3 separate regions of the Homo sapiens genome follow, and all the other regions are linked to region 2. The links come from fine-mapping of genetic effects on gene expression. A gene starts in region 2. Each other region holds a variant in brackets. All regions are shown on one strand. Distances are between the middles of the regions.

What was found. PIP is the estimated chance that this variant, and not a neighbour inherited with it, causes the effect.
Region 1: its variant is fine-mapped to the expression of SMARCE1 in whole blood (INTERVAL, PIP above 0.99).
Region 3: its variant is fine-mapped to the expression of SMARCE1 in whole blood (TOPMed, PIP above 0.99).

The regions. Positions count from the first base shown.
Region 1 is chr17:40,620,481-40,627,161 of GRCh38, forward strand. SMARCE1 (SWI/SNF related BAF chromatin remodeling complex subunit E1) reads right to left here. Exons shown (of 11, transcript NM_003079.5): 11 at 4,482-6,681. Among named protein-coding and RNA genes, the nearest start is that of SMARCE1, 24 kb to the right of the region's middle. RefSeq lists an enhancer at 3,386-3,525. The variant G/A (reference allele first, on the strand shown) is at 3,210.
Region 2 is chr17:40,644,481-40,651,161 of GRCh38, forward strand. It overlaps SMARCE1 (SWI/SNF related BAF chromatin remodeling complex subunit E1), which reads right to left and starts at 3,338. Exons shown (of 11, transcript NM_003079.5): 1 at 3,293-3,338; 2 at 1,316-1,367; 3 at 1,096-1,139. The coding sequence starts at 1,322. RefSeq lists a silencer at 3,577-3,871.
Region 3 is chr17:40,608,844-40,614,747 of GRCh38, forward strand. No RefSeq gene overlaps it. Among named protein-coding and RNA genes, the nearest start is that of SMARCE1, 36 kb to the right of the region's middle. The variant C/G (reference allele first, on the strand shown) is at 3,004.

The DNA.
Region 1 (6,681 bases), 24 kb before region 2:
ACAGAGAAAAAAAAAATCGCTTTGATTTTGTTGGGGAGGACACATTTTTTAATTCTGTCTTTCCAGGTTCTTGGCAGGATCTCTGTAACAAAAGTCAGGCTAGAAAGAGAGAAGCATATATATTTATTTAATACACGTTTTATGTGATACAGGGGCTTTTGTAAGGAAATGAAGACCCAAAGAAATGTTTAAACCTGAGTGTTTTTATACGGGGTTTGATGAAGAGTGGAAAGTCATGGAAGAATATGATAGGACAGAGGGGATGAGCTGAGGGTGGGAAAGCGGGGGGAAGCTCAGCAAGGCCTGTTTGCCCAGTTTCTCTTCTTCGCAGATAAAAATGCGCTCTTCCCCTGAGTATAGGGAGGGCACCTGTCACCTGAGGTTCTTATGACCTGCTTCAAGGGAAGTTCAGAAATTGGTTCAGCTTAAAACATCCACTATTTTCAAGGTGCCATATTTTGGGCCTGAATCCCATCCATTTTTTTTCAAGTGTGTCTATCCTGACACACATTTTTTTTCAAGTGTGTCTAAAACTGTCCATTTTCCCCTGGTTTATGTAGACCTATCCAATTCCCTTGGGAAACTCAGTGGGAAACATGAAATTTACTTTCGAAGTGGGTGGTGATAATGAAAAATTAATCTTGCTACGATTCTGGTAAGAGACCAGACCCACACAGACCCTACTTTGGGCATTACCTGGCTGAAGCCAGCAGCAAGGCAGCGCACCCTTCTGACACGCACAGGTTGCCAGGGGCTCCACATGCATCAGCCCCCTGCTTTGGTGCATCACATATATTGCTGTTGATGTGTTCAACTCTGTTGCAAAGTGTTTGGAACAGATAACATCACAGTCGGATCATTTATCAATTCTTTCACTCGCCCACCTTTTGTTGTTGAACCACATACTTTGGGTAATAACTACAGTTTATTAGGTATGCTGTGAACACTGTTTTTAAGGAGTGCCTGGCTGAAAACACCCACAAAATGATTTAAAAACACAAAGCTAGGCCAGGCAGAGTGGCTTACGCCTGTAATCCAAGCACTTTGGGAGGCCGAGGAGGGCGGATCACTTGAGGCCAGGAGTTGGAGACCAGCCTGGCCATCATGGCAAAATCCCGTCTCTACCAAAAATACAAGAATTAGCTGTGCATGATGACGTGTGCTGTAGTCCCAGCTACTCGGGAGGCTGAGTTAGGAGAATTGCTTGAACCCAGGAGGCGGAGGTTGCAGTGAGCTGAGATCACTCCATTGCACTCCAGCCTGGGCAACAGAACGAAACTATCTCAAACAGAACAAAACAAAACAAACCCTCCGAAACCCACAGAGCTAGTATTTACAAGTTGGAATGTCATCATTGTGAATGTTTCCATCTGCACAAATATCTGGAAAACGACTATTAGGATACCAGCCTTTATTACTGCTCTATTAAGAGAAGCCATTTGCTCCTAAGCCCTTCGCTCTCTTAAAAAAATCATTTTAAGAACTGGAGTGGTTATGAGAAAAGCACCGGTGCTTTTAAAGATTTGCAGAAGGGGGAAAGGTCACTTGGCTGTCAGTTTGAGTTTTTATCTCATAGATGGGGTACCTATCACTCACAGAACTGGAGTCGGATAGACCTGAGTGGGAATCCTGTCTCCATCATAAATTAACTGTGTGATCTTGGACAAGTTATTTAACTTTTCTAAACCTCAGTTTCTCCATCTTTAAAACAGAGATGATATTCATAATATGTCATTAAAAAGTATAACATTAGAATGTGTCGCACACTGAAGAACGTCCAACTCTTGGCAAAGTTCAGTCCAACTAGGCTTGAACATGTTTTTAAAAATATCCTGAGGCTCTGCTCTCCCCGGAAGAAGCTGTAAAGAACAATTCCAGCCCTGGCACTGAGACAATTGGATCTTAGATGAGTCATTCACTTCTCTTTTTTGGGGCCTCAGTTTCCCCTTTGGTAAAATGAAGAGATTAAACCAAATCAGTGATTCTCCAAACTTTGCTAGTCTGCTAGGCTTCTCCTTAGTAGCCTCTAATTCAGTAGTCTTGGGTGGGGTTCAGACAGCTTCCCTAGGAGATTCTGTGCTCAATCTGAGAGCCACCCACCTAAGAACCACAACCACAGCCACCTAGACTCTGACTGACATTTGATGGCTTCAAGGAGGTATTTTAAAGCTATTGTCCCAGAATACGTGGTGTGTTTTTTGAGGAGGAGGAAGATCTATCCACGGCACACATCAGGAAGAGGTGGTTAAAGGTCAGAGAGTTATTCTGCAGAAAATCCATCTGATTTGGTACTTCCTGAAATTTTTGACACCCAACCAGGGATGTCTTTTAAAAGGTTCCCCACTGCTCACAGATTGACAGGAAACCACAACAGGGGTAAAATGCACGCATAACACAGCATACATCAGACATGAGGGTAGTTCTCTATATAGCACAGTATTTTTTATTATTGTAGGCTTACAAATGATTTAAGTCTGTGTGTTTGTGTGTGTGTGTGTACTTTTTCATTTTGGTGGTATGGAAAGCTTTGGAGGGAAGAAGGAAAGGATTCCACAAGGAATAGTTTTTCCATATACATCTCCCATTGCAAGAACACTGATCTCCGAGTGGATTCTTTTGTCTTGAGTCTTTTGAATTATTGATCCACAATGATGAAATCCCTAGCACAGATGTTCAATCTTGATGTCATTTAATATCTCGTACAACAGCCTGAGGCTAATTTTCCTCTCTCCAGGAAAAATGGTTTGTAAGAGTTGATTGATCAACTCAAGCCCAAGATCACAAATATAAACTTCATTGGTAAAGTGATCTACTCTAATATTATCTTCAGGGATTAGAAAATAAAAAGTATAAAAAGTGCATGAGCATACAGTAAGTGCTCAACAAATGTTGGCTTTTATTATTATTAGGTGATCATGGAATTAACTTTCACTAATTTGCCCTTGAGTTATAAGCCGCTGTTGACCCGGGGATAGTTTCTAAAAAGACAAATCTCCTGCAACTGCAGGTAGCAGAAGATAGACCTTCCCATTAGTGCTGTCTTCTCCTAAGCGTGTTATCCAGACCACCATGTGGGATCCTTGGGATGATTTTGGGTAGTACACAGACCATTTAAATAATGTTCTTTGAAAAAAAAAAACTTTATTTAAAAAATAGAGACAGGGTCTTGCTATGTTGCCCAGGCTGGTCTTGAACTTCTGAACACAAGC[G/A]ATCCTCCTGCCTTGGCCTCCCAAAGTGCTGAGACTTGGCCTTAAATAATACTCTTTTAAATAGTACGTATTTAGGCCTAAAGAGAACTACTAAAATATTTGCGTTAAGGTTATTTTCTTTTTTGACAAAAGACAATGGTTTTAACATTTATGCTGATATACAGTTTCCCTTTAAAATAAATCATTCAAGTGGAAGAAGCTGATTCAAAGAAAGCTGCTAAGTAATAATAGCACAAGTTGTACCCAGAAATGGTAAAAATTGTGATGGTGGCATGCAAATGACCGAGTTTGAGAAGTACTAGATCAGTGAACTGAACCTGTGTGCTCCCCGTTGGGCTACATCTGAAAACATTCGTCAACACTCATTTCATGGAGCTTGAATCCGTAGTACAGTTACAAAACTTCTGTGCTGTACAGGACCTTGAGGTCATCGTGGGACCACCCCTGTATTTTAGGCAGATGGTTTCCATGATCTGGAGATGTTGTGTCTCAAGTGCAATACACTGGGGAGGAAACACGACTTTACCAGATTAGAGAAAACCATGTTTGAAAAGAGACAGTCCTTCTATCCCAGGAGAGACACATTGGAGGGGAGACGACAGGACAATGAGAATGTAAACTATCTACGTTCCAAATTTTTCTGTACATTAAAAAAATTAAAAATTCTAAAAAAGAAAACGGAAATTGTCTTCTGAAAGGATCTCAAGGAGCACATGTCTTGAAATACCTGAAGATCTTTTACTTGGAAGGTGATGACATGTACTCTAATTGACTTCAAGTTGTGTAAGAGGGAGGCTGAAATTATAGGAAGACAGATTTTTAGTTCAGTGAGAGGAAATACCTTTAGTGAACTAAAGAAGGAATGAGCTATCTTAAGACATGATGGGCTCCCCAAGACTAGAAGTATTTATTTAAACAGAACCATGACGACCTTAGGGGACCTGGGACCAAGTGCTAGACGGGTGTGGAGGTGGCTGACCGAGGGTCCTTGCTGCCCCTTAAAGTCAAGGAGTTTAAGGCAGCCTTTCCTTTCTTTCAAGTGGCTCCTCAAAGGGAGCCATTATCTGCAGCTACTGTCTCAGTTTTATGTAAAGAGTATTTATCATTTGGGAATTTCCCCTCCCCATATAATACTTTTGACTCCTGAATGCATGCAAAAGAGCTGTAAGAAACTTTCTGGTGCTAAATGAGAAAATGTGTGAACATAAATGAGCTAGTTTAACTAAAAGTTCACCAAAATGTATTTTAAACATCAGGCTCTTAAAAACTCAATAGTTTGAAATTTGCATTTTAATCAGCGTTTGGCTAACAATATGAGATAAACTATTAGAGAAGTGTAGGTCATTCTGGCAAATAGAAAGTTCCATCATTTCACACTTAGAAAGCTGCCACGAAGAGCTTATTCTTGGAGTATAAAATGCAGAATTTAGGTTAAGCCAGTCATTTTGTAGATGAAATTGTACACTGGCAATTTCTTATGGTTCAACCTAATAGTAAAACATTTATAAACAATTGTATCATTACAAATACATTTAGACATCGTTTTCTGCTAAACTCAGTATTTTCCTTTCCATCCTGATCAAAGAAACATTATTGCAGTAAGCCACATTATAATTCAGCACGATTTCTTCTAAAAAGGCTCCGAGTTCCTTTGAGCTTGTTATTGTACAGTGGATTTTTCATTTGCAAAGACGTTAAGCCCTCCAAATGTGCAAATCATGAAGTCAGTTGTTGTTCCAGCAAGGTTTGCCCAGCGGTAAAAAACAAGATAAAACTAATGCACTAGCTGAAACCAGGTGGGGAGACCATGTGTGGTAGTGCTTGGGGGTGGAGGGAAACTATTTCTGAAATGAGGACTTAAAGTATAATACCAGCTTCACTGCCTGTTCACGAGAAACCAAAGCTTCAATTTAACTGCAGGCAATAGGAGTTTCACACTGTCAGCACCAACTGTCTAAAATCCAAAACTAGTATCTAAATGTGTAGGATCAAAACCAAAAATCTGGAGGGATCTAGTTAAACTTCAATATGCATGACCCCAGATTCCCCTTTAAAATATAGTCCAAGTATTTTATCTTTTCCATAGGGCATTGACATTATTGTGTTAATGTGAAATAGCTATTTACCTCTCCAAACCTCGGCTTTATAGAATAGATAATTATCACATCCTGTAGGAGAGCCATTTGAAAAGACAGCCTTGTTTACAGACAGGAGAAGTTACAGAATTTAAAACTGTTAGAAAATTGGGGGACTATGGGGCTGGGCGCGGTGGCTCACGCCTGTAATCCCAGCACTTTGGGAGGCAGAGGAGGGTGGATCAGGAGGTCAAGAGTTCGAGACCAGGCTGGCAAACATGGCAAAATCCTGTCTCTACTAAAAATACAAAAATTAGCCGGGCGTGGTGGCGGGCGCCTGTAATCCCAGCTACTCAGGAGGCTGAGGCAGGAGAATTGCTGAAACCCAGGAGCTGGATGTTGCAGTGAGCCGAGATGGCGCCATTACACTCCAGCCTGGGCAACAGTCAGACTGTCTCAAAAAAAAAGGAAAATTGGGTGACTATCGAGGATTCCCCTCTCCCATTTGTTAAAAAAAATTAACAAAATTTAGGCCCTCAGACTTTATGCATTCATACTCAAAATAAATGCACTAAAAATCAAGGAGCAGTAAGGGCACCAAGAAAGAGCAGTTTGATCTATTTTATAATTAAAACAGGCTCGAGTTCAAGCTACTTGCCCAGCACCTTTTGGGACATGGGAAAAAAACAAAGACCTCTACCATATCCCACATTCTCTAAACTGAGAACCATCTCAAACATCAAGTCTACATATATCACTCTGACCAAGTGGATTTTTACATCAATCTTCCCCTGCTGAGGTTCAGAGCTGTCAAATCCCAACTGAGGCCGGGCACAGTGGCTCACGCCTGTAATCCCAGCACTTTGGGAGACTGAGGCAGGCGGATCACCTGAGGTCACGAGTTCAAGATCAGCCTGGCTAACATGGTGAAACCCCATCTCTACTAAAAAATACAAAAATTAACCGGGCATGGTGGCGAGAGCCTGTAATCCCAGCTGCTCTAGAGGCTGAGGCAGAGAGAATTGCTTGAACCTGGGAGGTGGAGGTTGCAGTGAGCTGAGATCGCCACCACTGCACTCCAACCTGGGCGACAGATTGAGACGTCTCCCATCTGACTTAATTCCCTCATCAACTGATTGCCAGTGTTGTATGGACAGGCTTGGTCTGGATAGACTTGTCTTCCCACTGCTATTTCCAGCCGGGCAAAAGAACCACTTCCATTCTCTTAGAGCTTTCGATACCACAGTAAATAACCTGGTATCTTGCTGGGGCAGTTTTCCACCCATATTAAACTACATCTGCCCCATTTTGACTACTAGAAAATGTATCAAAGAGGCTGTCCAATTTGTCTGAGATGAGATGGCTGAAGTTCTTAGCCAAATAATGGCCAAAGCTCA
Region 2 (6,681 bases):
GGTCATAACAAATGTTCTTCGATTTAAGAAAGAAAACAAAGCAAGCATAGGACTTTATAGTCTACTGGAATTAACTTTAGAGCCTGTATATGACATAAATTGAAATGAGAACATATGGTACGGTATCTCTTTTCTAAAGTATCTCACTAAAGAAAAACAAATTGTTGATAAATGTAACTAAAATATGTATCTGAGGGTTAGTAAATATGAGTAGTTTTTTAGCGGAGAAAACTAAGTTACACAAGGACCTAATTAGTAGTGAAAAGTAGACTAGCCTGAAATTTAGGTGGTGGGGGTATGGAAGGAAGGATTAATATTAAAGAACTAATTTTGTAGAATTTGGTCATGCTAACAGTGTTTTTTTAAAAACAAACAAAACCCCCCCTCCCAAAAAACCAACAAGGAAGCCATTTCAGCAAGACCTGAACAGTTACTGCTAAATCTGTTTTGTGGGTTGGAAAATTATTTTACATGCTGACCAAGCTGGGCCAGAGCTTCCTGGGTGAAAAAACACGTTCACAACTACTTAAAACATATATACTTCCAAACCAATAAAATATAATTTATGGAGTGGAATAAGATTCAATAGCAAGATCTGCCCCATAGATAATGAAATCTTTACTTGAACAGCTTGAAAATATTTACAATGAGTAGTTTCAGAAGCTTTATTGTTTAATATGAAAATTTTAGAGAGAGACAAGAAAGGAGAGAAAAACATAACCAGTTGAAGGTTAGGTTTAACAAAATAGCCAGAATGAGCATTCACTCAGTAACAACTTAAAGACTCTTAATAGTGAAGATTAATAAGAAAGAAATGGTAAAACTTTCACTTATTTCCCATTTACAAAGAAAAAACAAAACAAACTGAGCACAGGAGGTTGGAGTTTTACAGTACTGTTTCTTTAAATGTTGGGGTTGGTTCAAGGAAAGATGCAAATAATTATTTTATTTAGTAGGAAGTGCTTTTTTTTTTTTCTTTTAAGCTGAATTTCATCCTGTTGCTGTGATGATTGAGTGACTGTCACTGGAAGACATCTGGGTTTTTGTATCAAGGCCAGAGTTGGCTATTACATTAACAAGAAAATTAAAACTTACTGTTGCAGGAGCTGGGGTGGGAGGTGGGGCATAAGATGGTCTTTCTGTTTGAAAGAAAATAAATAACTTCTTGTAAACAACTGAGATATAATACTATGCAACAAAACTACCAATGGTCCTGTTTTGAAGAAAAAAAAATGAGAGTATTTTGGAATTCCCACTTGCTAGGGCATTAGTCTCTTATTAACATAGATTGATAAATATAAAAATTGAAACTTACTTGACATTTTGGAAGATTAAGTTCTCAGTTCCTTAAGAATGAATCTGAGACACTAAAATAAAAAAAAAAGGAAAAAAAAAAGAGAATCAAAACTCAGCAAGCATACGAGAATGTTTTCCTAATGAATAGGGTAATTTAATTGGTATTTCTGAGTAAAATTACTTCACCTTAATTCCTAGTAATTAAGCCTTTTGTGTATTTTAACTAGTTCTTATAGGTCATTTGGTTGATTAGAATTAAATGACTAAAATAAAGTACTGGGGATATTTAGAAATGTACTTTCAGGTTTTTTCTTGTGATACTAAGCTACCTCTTGTATGGAAAACATTTTGCTGACGCCATGTAAACATTTCATCAGACTGATACAAGGATGAGAATAGAAAGTGATGTATTATCAGGGTCCAACGCAACAAGGCCTACCAGATACTGACAGCTCCCTGATCAGCAACTGTATCATGCTTTTGGGATAACAATTTTTATTAAAATTAGGCAGCATTTTATTCCTGGAAGCAGTGCAAAAGGTAATTGGTATGACAATGAACTTCACATTCTCTTATAATGGTAAATAGCTTCATAAATGCTGGGAATAAATTTTGAGAGTCTACCTGAAAAACTTTTATTCATCATTCACAGCCCATTTCAAAATTTTTCTCCTCAAGGGAACTTTCTTGATACATTACCTGGGCAGAATTAACTGCTCCCCCATCTGTATTCCTATACAGTTTACACAGATCTATATTATTATAACTTTTTTTTAACTTATCAATATGGCTAGATTGTATGCTACTTGGAAAGAGGGACCATGTCAGGACCTAGCTCAATTCTTAGGAAATTTTTTCCTAGTATTACCAGCTCACAACATAACCAGGCACATGTGAGCTTGTTCTTTACATCAACATACATCACAAATAGTGAGGTACAAAAAGACAAAAATTCATCTTTGGAAAGAAGGCAAATAAACTTCTATGACTATTGGAGGTATTTGCAACCAAACATGTGGAATAGATCTGATTTTTCGCTTCTATTATTAATTTTAAGGAAATTCCCTGGAGCATAAGGAATGAGTCCTGGTGTGGAAAGAAACAGCTCATTTTCTCAATGGTCCAACCTGAGTCTTTCCCTCTTAAAGAACAGCCAGAAACCTTTGACTCTGGTGTAGATTTCCTTTCTGCTCACATTAAGGGAGCTGTCAACATCCAGCAGGCCTCGCTGCAGGGGACCCTGACAACTAACATAAGCTCCCTGTACGTTATACTTCATTGTTAATACTTTAAAATTATTGCTCTCTTTTGCTAGAATACAAAATTTAAGAGTGGGCTTGTACATTTGTCCACCGTTGGATCCATCTTTGGTGCCTGGCATAAAAATAAATACCCGATAAATATTTGTTCAAGAAATACTTTATACGGGGTACGCTTATGACACTATTTCGCTTAACACTCACAAGTACTTTATATGTACAGCTATCCCCATTTTACAGATGAAACAAGGGAGTCTCGGAAAGTTTAAACAACTTGTCTGAAGCCATATGCAGCCAGGAAGTGCCAAAGTTGGGTTTCAAACCCAGGCCAAACTATTTCAGAGCTCTGCTCGTCCTCAAGTCGCTGCCTGAACCAATGGGGGAACCTTCTGCCCGGGTGGGGGGTGAACCACGGACCTGCCTTGCCCACGGCTTCCTGAGGTCGCTCTCTTTGTCTTGGAGAATGTACTTTACTAGCAACTCCCCTAAAACGGGGTATTCACAGGTGCTTTGACCAATTTCGGGGGACTGGCCTTGCCTCCAAGGAGGGGGCCCCAGATGGGACTCCCTCCCAACCCTCGCTCTGCTAGGCCTCAAGGAGGCCTCAACCGGCTCCTGGCTCTGGCCCCACGGCCAAGGCTGAACCCCAGCAACCCCCGGGAACTCGGGGTCTAGCCAAGCGGGGACACCACGACTTGCACCCACCGACCCGGTCCGTCCCACTTGGAAACACTCACCCGCGGGCAGAAAAAGCGCCCGCAGCTCCGGCTTCGCTTCCCTTTGTCCCGCGCTCGCCCCGCCCCTCGCGTCCGGAGCTTCCGCACTCGCACTTTCCACACTCTTCTTAATTTTTTTTTTTTTCCGGGCCCCACCCGACCCTCTTTAGAAAAACTAACCTTCTAGTGAAGATGCGGTGATGCTTAGCACACTCAGGGATTTTTTTCAGGACCCATTGGATCCTCAAAACTCCCCGAATTTTGATACTTTCCCAGCCGGGCGCTGATTCGTCACGGCGAAGAGGGCCGAGGAGGCCCGACCTAACACAGAATAGGCCTGGGTTTAGCGGCTGTGAGGAGCCGGAGCCGCCGCAGCGACCGAGGAAGTGGCGGGAGGTGCCGAGCCTTGCGGAGGGGCGGTGGGGGCCGCGGTGGGAGACGGCGGATGGCGCTCAGCGCGAGGCCGCGGAACCACTGTGGCAGCAAGCAGTTCGGCCAGACTCCCGCTGAGCCCGCTCCTGGAGGGGCCCTCCCCGACTCCGGTCTTGCTTTCCTTTAGGCTGTGGGTCAGAGTCTACACTTCACTAAACCTGGGATGGAGGCGTGGAGGACTTGCTTCGCGGCGTTTGCGTCCTCGCAGGCGCCTCGCAGGGCTTCCTGCCCTCACGGCGGGGGAGTAGCTTTGGCGAAAATCAGCACGAGTTCTGCAGTTTTTCCAAGCGCTTTTAGGGTGTAATCGTCCCAGGTTTCTAAGCCAAGGCCCGGAGAGTTGACCCCCTCGCAACAGCTTGTGTGTCCTTGCAGCGCCGCGGGTGCCACCTGGTCTCCGCCTCAGCGCTGCCTCGGCTCCTTCGGTTCCCACCAGCGGGAACGACCGTCCCCACTTTCAGCTTAAACTCATCTGTCCTTCTGGATCCAGCTCAGAGGTCTCTTTGTGATGCCCTCCTGGAACTTCCCCCCTAGTAATCCTTCCTTTGTATTCCCGTGGCTCTTTGATAATAATGGTTGGAGTCCTGAACCCGACCCTTTGTATCGGACCGTGTTTGTCATCTCCAGTGCTTTATGAAGGCCTTGAAAGCAAGGTTCAGCCGTCTGTATTGGTCATCTTCCCATTGCCAGTGCCTACGAAGGGCTTGACCCATTCATTGTTAGACGCTCAGTAAGTGTGTATTGAGGCAGCCCTCTGTGCCACTCCAGGGCTCTTTCCACTAAATCATGAGTATGTTGGTTTACCAGATGGAATGAGTAGCCTCTTCTTTGGATACATAAACACCCGATGGATATTGTGGGTCACTGTGGAGGGAGAATGAACGTATGGGATCCCTGACCTGTGGTTACTGGAAAACAGTTGACATTTAGAGAGAGGCTGAATTCTTGGGCTTCCCGTAGCCCCCATCCTGAGTGTGCCAACAGGGACTAGAAGCATCTCTAGTCTGCAAAGCGAGGAACAAGTGATACTCTGTCCAATTTTTCCAATATTGTTATACTCATGAATAGAGATTAATGAAATTGAAGAGCATATTCAAGAGAAAGACTAAAGGAGAAGTCGTCTGCCCCGTGGACAGGCAGCTTGAGTGGTGCTTGAGAAAATGTACATGAAATTGCTTGTTAAAAAATATTCACGCCTGTAATCCCAGCTCTTTTGGGAGGCCGAGGCGGGCAGATTACTAGGTCAGGAGATCGAGACCATCCTGGCTAACACGGTGAAACCCCGTCCCTACTAAAAATACAAAAACAAAATTAGCCGGGCGTGGCGGCGGGCGCCTGTGGTCCCAGCTATTGGGGAGGCTGAGGCAGGAGAATGGCGTGAACCCGGGAGGCGGAGCTTGCAGTGAACGGAGATGGCGCCACTGCACTCCAGCCTGGGCGAGAGAGCGAGACTCTGTCTCAAAAAAAAAAAAATTATATATATATATATGTATATATCCATCAGAGACATGTAAAGGATTAAAGTACGATACACAAAGGCCTCAGAAGGGATTTCAGTACATTCTTTTTCTGGCTTCGTCCAGCAACTCCAGCCTGGTTTCTTCCCTGCCTTTGGGATTATGGTGGGAGGATTGGGCGAGTGCAGTGCTGGGGAGGCGCTGTGTGTTGTCTCTAGGCAGTCCTCTGAAGAAAAACTGCAGGTTTTGGATGTTAAGAATAAAGCACCCTATAGTAGGAAAGGGGTGGCCCAAAAACGGCAAAAAGGGAAAGGAGGGGACCTAAGTGGAGCAGTGACATTGTCTGATACACTTTCTCACTGGGTTTCTGCTCAGATGTCACCTTCTTAGTAGGTGTTTCCTGACCTTTTTAAAATTGCATCTCATTCCCCAACCCCCGGTGTCTGTTCATGGCCTGTGCTTTACTTTTTCTGTAGCACTTGTCGCTACCTAACATACTATACTTCTTATGAATTTATTTTGTTTTGTCTTTTTCTTCTTCTTTTCTTTTTTTTTTTGAGACGGAGTTTCGCTCTTATTGCCCAGGCTGGAGTGCAATGGCGCGATCTTGGCTCACTACGACCTCCGTCTCCCGAGTTCAAGTGATTCTCCTGCCTCAGCCTCCCAAGTAGCTGGGATTACGGCATGTGCCACCACACCCTGCTAATTTTGTATTTTTAGTAGAGACGAGGTTTCACCATGTTGGTCAGGCTGGTCTTGGACTCCTGACCTCAAGTGATCCACCGCCTCGGCCTCCCAAAGTGCTGGATTACAGGCATGAGCCACCGCACCCAGCCGTCTTTTTTTTCCCATCAGGGTGGAGATTTTGACATCTGGAACAGTACACAGCACATTTAGATGCTCAATACTTGTGGAGTAAATAAATGAATGACTCATTTTCTTCGCTTGGTTCTTTCTCTACCAAAGATTTGAAAAATTAAGAAACACCAGCCTGGCAACATAGGGAGACCCCATCTCTTAAAAAAAAAATTAGCCAGGTGCGGTGGTGCACATTTGTGGTCTCAGTTATTTGGGACGCTGAGGTGGGAGGATCGCTTGAGCCTGGGAGGTCAAGGCTGCAGTGAGCCATGATCATGCCACTGCACTCCACCCTGGGTGACAGAGGCCCTTTCTAAAAAAAAAAAAAAAGAAAAGAAAGAAGGATATAGGCAAGAGATAATAGAAAAATAATCTGTTCTCTAGTCCTGAAGAAACTAAAACTGAAGAGTGAATTATCCAGCAAGATGGACTTTACTTATTATGAGTTTTTTTCCCCCAAAGCAAACACCAGAACATATGCTCTTGCCTTTAGAAGGATATTTATGGTAACTACAGGACAGATGTTTGGAGTTGTGATTATTCCCAGAAAATTTGGGATACAGCATCAATATGACTATTTAAACTAAATATAACTATAAGGGTAGTTGGGAGCACTCACGTGGGACCAGTGGTTAACCCCAGAGATAATCTTAGGCCCAATTAAGA
Region 3 (5,904 bases), 36 kb before region 2:
TGGCAGGCCTGGCATTGGAGCTGGTCTTTGAAAGATGGGTGGTATCTTAGTTTCCTAGGGTTGCTGTAAACAATACCACAGACTCAGTGGCTTAAACAACAGACATTTATTTTCTTATAGTTCTAGAGGCCAGAAGTCCAAGATCAAGGGGTTTCCAGCATTGTTTCTTCTGGTTTCTTCTGAGGACACTCTCTGTGGCTTGCAGATGGCCACCTTCTTGCTATGTCCTCATGTGGTGGTCTGTGTTGTCTGGGTCCTGATCTCCTCTTCCTTTTTTTTTTTTTTCCCCAAGATCGAGTCTTGTTCTATCATCCAGGCTGGAGTGCAATGGCGAGATCTTGGCTCACTGCAACCTCTGCCTCCTGGGTTCAAGCGATTCTCCTGCCTCAGCCTCCCTAGTAGCTGGGATTTCAGGCATGTGCCACCACGCCCCGCTAATTTTTTGTATTTTTAGTAGAGATGGGGTTTCACCCTGTTGGCCAGGCTGGTCTCAAACTCCTGACCTCAGGTGATCCACCCACCTTGGCCTCCCAAAGTGCTGGGATTACAGGCATGAGCCACCACACCCGGCCCCGATCTCCTCTTCCTATAAGGATGCCAGTCATATTGGATGAGAGCCCACCATTGACTTCATTAAGGTAAAATGAGGTCATATCCATGGGCCCCAATCCAATATGACTGGTGTTCTTTATCTCCAGGAAGGCCTTGTCTCCAAATACAGTCCCATTATGAGGTACTGGGGGTTAGGAATTCAATGTATGAATTTGAGTGGGGAGACACAATGAAGCCTGTAACAGATAGGATGTTTTCTTTTCACATTTGTTCCATTACAAAACTACTCACTGTGGCCAGGTGCAGTGGTTCATGCCTGTAATCCCAACATTTTGGGAGGCAGAGGCAGGAGGATTGCTTGAGCCCAGGAATTTGAGACCAGCTTGGGCAACATAGGAAGACCCAGTCTGTACAAAAATTAATACATAAATTAACCAGGCATAGTAGTGCATGCCTGTGGTCTCAGCTACTTGGGAGACTGATGTGGGAGGATTGCTTGAGCAACCCAGAAGGTTGAGGCTACAGTGAGCTGTAATCGTGCCACTGCACTCCAGACTGGACAACAGAGTGAGACCCTGTCTGTCTCAAAAAATAAAACATAAAAACACCCAAAAGTACTCATTGTAAAATGTTGTGAAATGTTGAAAAGCACAAGAGGGAAAATAAAAACCCTTTAGAGATGACCATATCTGTCCATGAAAAAAACAGTTTAAAATGGGTTTATACTTATAACACCTGTTGTTTGGTAAACTATTTTTATAGTATAAATATGTCATGAACTATTAAATTTTCTACCACAACATCACTTTTAATGCCTGCCTCATGGTCCATGATAAGGGTGTATTGAATGTGTTTAACCAGTGGAGAGTGGGGTTTTGATTAGCCAAGACTGGGATGGAGAAGTAGCAGCCTCATGGAAGGGAATGATGTGAGCTCCAAGGGCACAGTAGTTGGTTACACTTCAGCAAACTGCAACCAATGAGAACAGTTCTCAGAATCAGGTCGATTACACTTATAAGAAGATGTAATTTTTTGTGTGTGTTGGGGGTGGTCAGGGAAATAGACTGTGGACATGAGAGTGCTGCTGCTTCTGAGAAGTCCTGAAGGGTCCTGAGAATGAGCCAGCTCCATGATTTATGTCTGACTAATCAGTCTCAACTAGACCTGATGGGGGCAACTGAAAGTCAAAATTTGACTCTGCAGGGTGAGACTGAACTCGATGAACATAGTTTCATAGTTTTAATTGAGATGCTGCTTTTTAATGAGTGACTGTTAGTGATGAGTGATTATTGCTTTTCCCATCACTCACTTCCCTCACTCCCCTCTTTCCTTCCCCACCCTTTATCCCAGATGAGGAAAAATCATTGGTAAAACAAAACAAAGAGAAAGGGATTTAGTGATAAAGACTCACCTTGTTTCACACTGAAGACTGAAGGATCTAAAGGAGAAGTTCAGGTTGGACCAGGAGGGCTTCTAGGGGAGAGAAGAGGCAGAGAGAGCAGGGAGAGAGCACAAGTCCCCAGCTGGAGTGCAGTGGTGCAATCTCGGCTCACTGCAGCCTCGACCTCCTGGGCTCAAGCGATCCTCCCACCTCAGCCTCCCAAGTAGCTGGGAATATAGGCTCTCACCACCATGCCCAGCTAATCCTTTTTTTTTTTTTTTTTTTGTAGAGATAGGGTCTCACTATTTTGCCCAGGCTTATCTCAAACTCCTGGGCTCAAGTGATCTCCAGCCTTGGCCTCCTTAAATGCTGAGATTACAGGCATGAGCCACTGTGCCTGGCCCCACTGTGAATTTTGAATGATCCAATAGGTGATTCAATAGGGAAAAAATGCTTATTCCTGTTAATTTCAACAACTGAGCCTTTCAAGTTGTGTTTATATAGCCAGCATGGACTTAGGTTTCATTTGCCCTACTGTGCAAGTGGAAGAAGAGGAATGTGGCAGTGACTCCTGATTTCATAGAGAAAGCCCACAAAACAGTTTAGAAATACAGAGATGTCAGCTGCAATGCTCCTTCCAAGACAACCATTCCCAAGTGAGAAAACCAGTCAGAATTACAGCTCTCTTTGGGGGTTTCTTATTAGAGGACAAGGCAACTATTTCTAAAGCCTTAGGAGTCTTGGCTGGGTGTGGTGGCTCACACCTGTAATTCCAGCGCTTTGGGAGGCTGAGGCAGGAGGGTCACTTGAGGCCAGGAGTTTGAGGCCAGCCTGAGCAACATGGTGAGACCCCCATCTGTACAAAAAATTAAAAAGAAAATAGCCAGGCATGGTGGTGCGTGCCTGTAATACTGGGTACTCGGAAGGCTAAGGCAGGAGGATCGCTTGAGTCCAAGAGTTGGAGGCTGCAGTGAGCTATGATCGAGCCAGTGCACTCCAGCCTGGGCAACAGAGTGAAATCCTAACTCTAACTAACTAACTAGGAGAAACGAAAAATAAAGTCTTAGGAG[C/G]CTTGCGAGATCCCTTTTGTTGAACGAAATGAGTCCAGGGACAGATTTATTCAACCCAAGACTTACCAGGAACAGTGATGAATATTCACATGAGTCTGCTTGTTGCCCCGAAGAGCAAGATTTATGTTCTTGTGAAAGTTTTCAACCTAACACTTTATCATATCTGATTCTTTGAACTGGCTTTTTAATGTAGAGTGGCAGCTGTCTCTCCCCAGCTGGAGGGGAAGGAGGCCATCTTCTGCATCTCCTTCTGAGACACTTGTGTTAATGACGATGGCTTGCATTTGGGAGGCAATTTCATCAGTTGGCATTATAAGGAAAATAGCAGGCCTGCCAAGCTCAATTTACTGGCAGAAAAAGAAAAGGAGTGAAGAGGATATTACTTATTAACTATGAAATGCGGACCGTACAGCACAACACTATCTTTTGAATTCCCCATGATTGCAGAATCATAAGGCTTTCTTCTGGTGTGGGAGCATACTGACACCCCTCCCTTGTGCTGTGGTTGTGAAAAGGATTATGTAAAGATGATTGCTACTTTCAGGAGCCACCAGCCTCTCAACTTTATCGAGGATGCAGGAAAAGGTAATTCAGGAAGGATGCAATTCACTTCAAACCTTTAACAAATCCATGTCATGAAAACCTAATTCAGAGAAGGTCATTTGCTGGAAGGTATATTATTAAATAAAAAGAAACAAATTTTTTTAAAAAAAGATCATTTGCTATAATATTGTTTTGCAACCATTCACCACATGACAACTTAGACAGTTGTTCTCAGGCATTTTGTATCTTTTTTTTTTTTTTTTTTCAAATTAATGAGTCTTTATTGAGAGTGTGCTGGGTGCCTTTCTTTGTGGGAAAACCATATTGGCCAAGTCTCTAAAGCTGATGCACACCCCCTCATTCTGTGCAAGTGAGTCTCTCAGAGCCTTTCAGCACCCGCCTCCAGTGCCTAGTGAGGTAGTCATGCCACCCGGGAAAGTGGGCAATGCTGCCTAAGAACAGTGCCCACATTCCAGCAAACTGTCATCCCAGAGCCTTGCAACCTCCTCTCCAAACGCTTGCAAAAAAACAAGTGTGAGCGCTAACAGACTCCTTGCCGGAAACCAGGTAGCCAGAGAAGCTAGTGACGCACCTGAGGAGGAAACCAGGGATCAGGACACTTCAAAGACCCAGTGCTGGCAAGGTGCCCCGGGCGAGGGTGACTGTCAGGACATTTCTGCATCATCCAGTTATGAAAGCTGATTCTATTTAATTCAGTTTAATTAAAACAGGGGGGCCAGTTCCACCCAAAGGCAGAAGACGCTGTCAGCGGATGCAGAGTGAGATCTGAGGACCAGGAAGCAAAAGTAGCACCTCCCTCGAATCTGCCACTGATGACTGCCATCACCCCATTACTCCCTTCCAGTTACCCTTCGCGACTCACTCATCCCTTACCCCTCGGGAAGACACTGTCCAGGGCAGAGTCTCCCAGTCCAGGGCCCTCGGCTCTGGTGACCACATGCTCTGCACTAAAAATCAGCAACACATGATCAGGCAAATGTGAAGGTCCAAGGCACTAGGGGGCCAGCATATTTGAAATCGAGATGCCCAAAGGGCAATGAGACCAGGAATTCAGGTCCCTGTTCCCATTGCCTTTTGGGAAAGGCAGTAGTGTGGCTTAGTTGAACTGAGGACAGACAGGGACTTGCTGGGAAGGGGAAATCAAGGTGCAGGTTCTCTTGGAAGGAGGCAGGATCACAAGCGGGTCCTGGGGTGGAGAGGGGGAAGGTGTGAGTGGAAAGAGCAAGTGTGCGTGACACAACCGGCACAGTCGGCCTCTTTCTCCACTGGATGGGAACTCCCTAAGGCAGAGGGCTTTGTGTTTTGTACATTGTTGTGTCCCCAGCACCTAGAACAGAGCCTGATACATTGTAGGAGCTCAGTAAATATTTATTGGATGAGTTGTAATATTTATTGTAAATATTAGTAAATATTTATTGAGTTGAGTTGGTCTTTCCAGTGAAGTGGTTGCTTCTCTGTGAAGCTCTGTGGGAAACATAAATGGTGGGAGATAGGTTACCTGTCGTTAGGGCTGGCCATATGTGAGCCCTATAACCATTTGGTATTCATTCATTCATTCATTCATTCATTCATTCATGGAATATTTGCCCAGCTTCTATTCTGTAATATATTGTATTAGTCACTTGGGGCACAAATATGAAAGCCAACACATATTTCTTCAGGACAGGTGCAGTGGCTCACACCTGTAGTCCCAGCACTTTGGGAGGCTGAGGCAGGAGGATCCCTTGAGGTCAGGAGTTCAAGACTAGCCTGGGTGACATAGCGAGACCTTGTCTCTACAAAAAATTAAAAAATAAATCCAGACAGAGCAGTGTACCTGTAGTCTTAGCTACTTGGGAGGCTGAGGTGGGAGGATCGCTTGAGCCCAAGACTTGGAGGCTGCAGTGAGCTATGATTGTGCCACTGCACTCCAGCCTGGGTGACAGAGTGAGACCCTATTGTTAAAAAATTAATTAATTAATTAAAAATATTTCTTTAATACCCATCATGAGCCAGGCTCTGGGGGATACCATGGTGCCTCAGGCTGGAAACACCTTCTTTGGTAGAAGACACAGACTGTCTAAGCCACAGACGGGGGCGCGTCGGTCTCTCTCTGGAAGTGGAGATGCTGGGAAAGGCTTTGCAGAGGAAGGCACATTTGGGCTGCATCCTGACAGCAGGGCAGGCGTTCGTCAGGCTGGGGAGGTGTGGGGCAGCACCGGAGCAGAGTGTCAGTGTGTGTCATGGCTTGGTTTCCCTCAGAGGCCTGCTGGGGCCACCTTTTAGCTACACTCTTCACACCTCATTTTCCCACTTCCCAGACCCTCTGAACATGTCCTTCTCTCTTACTGGTTGCTC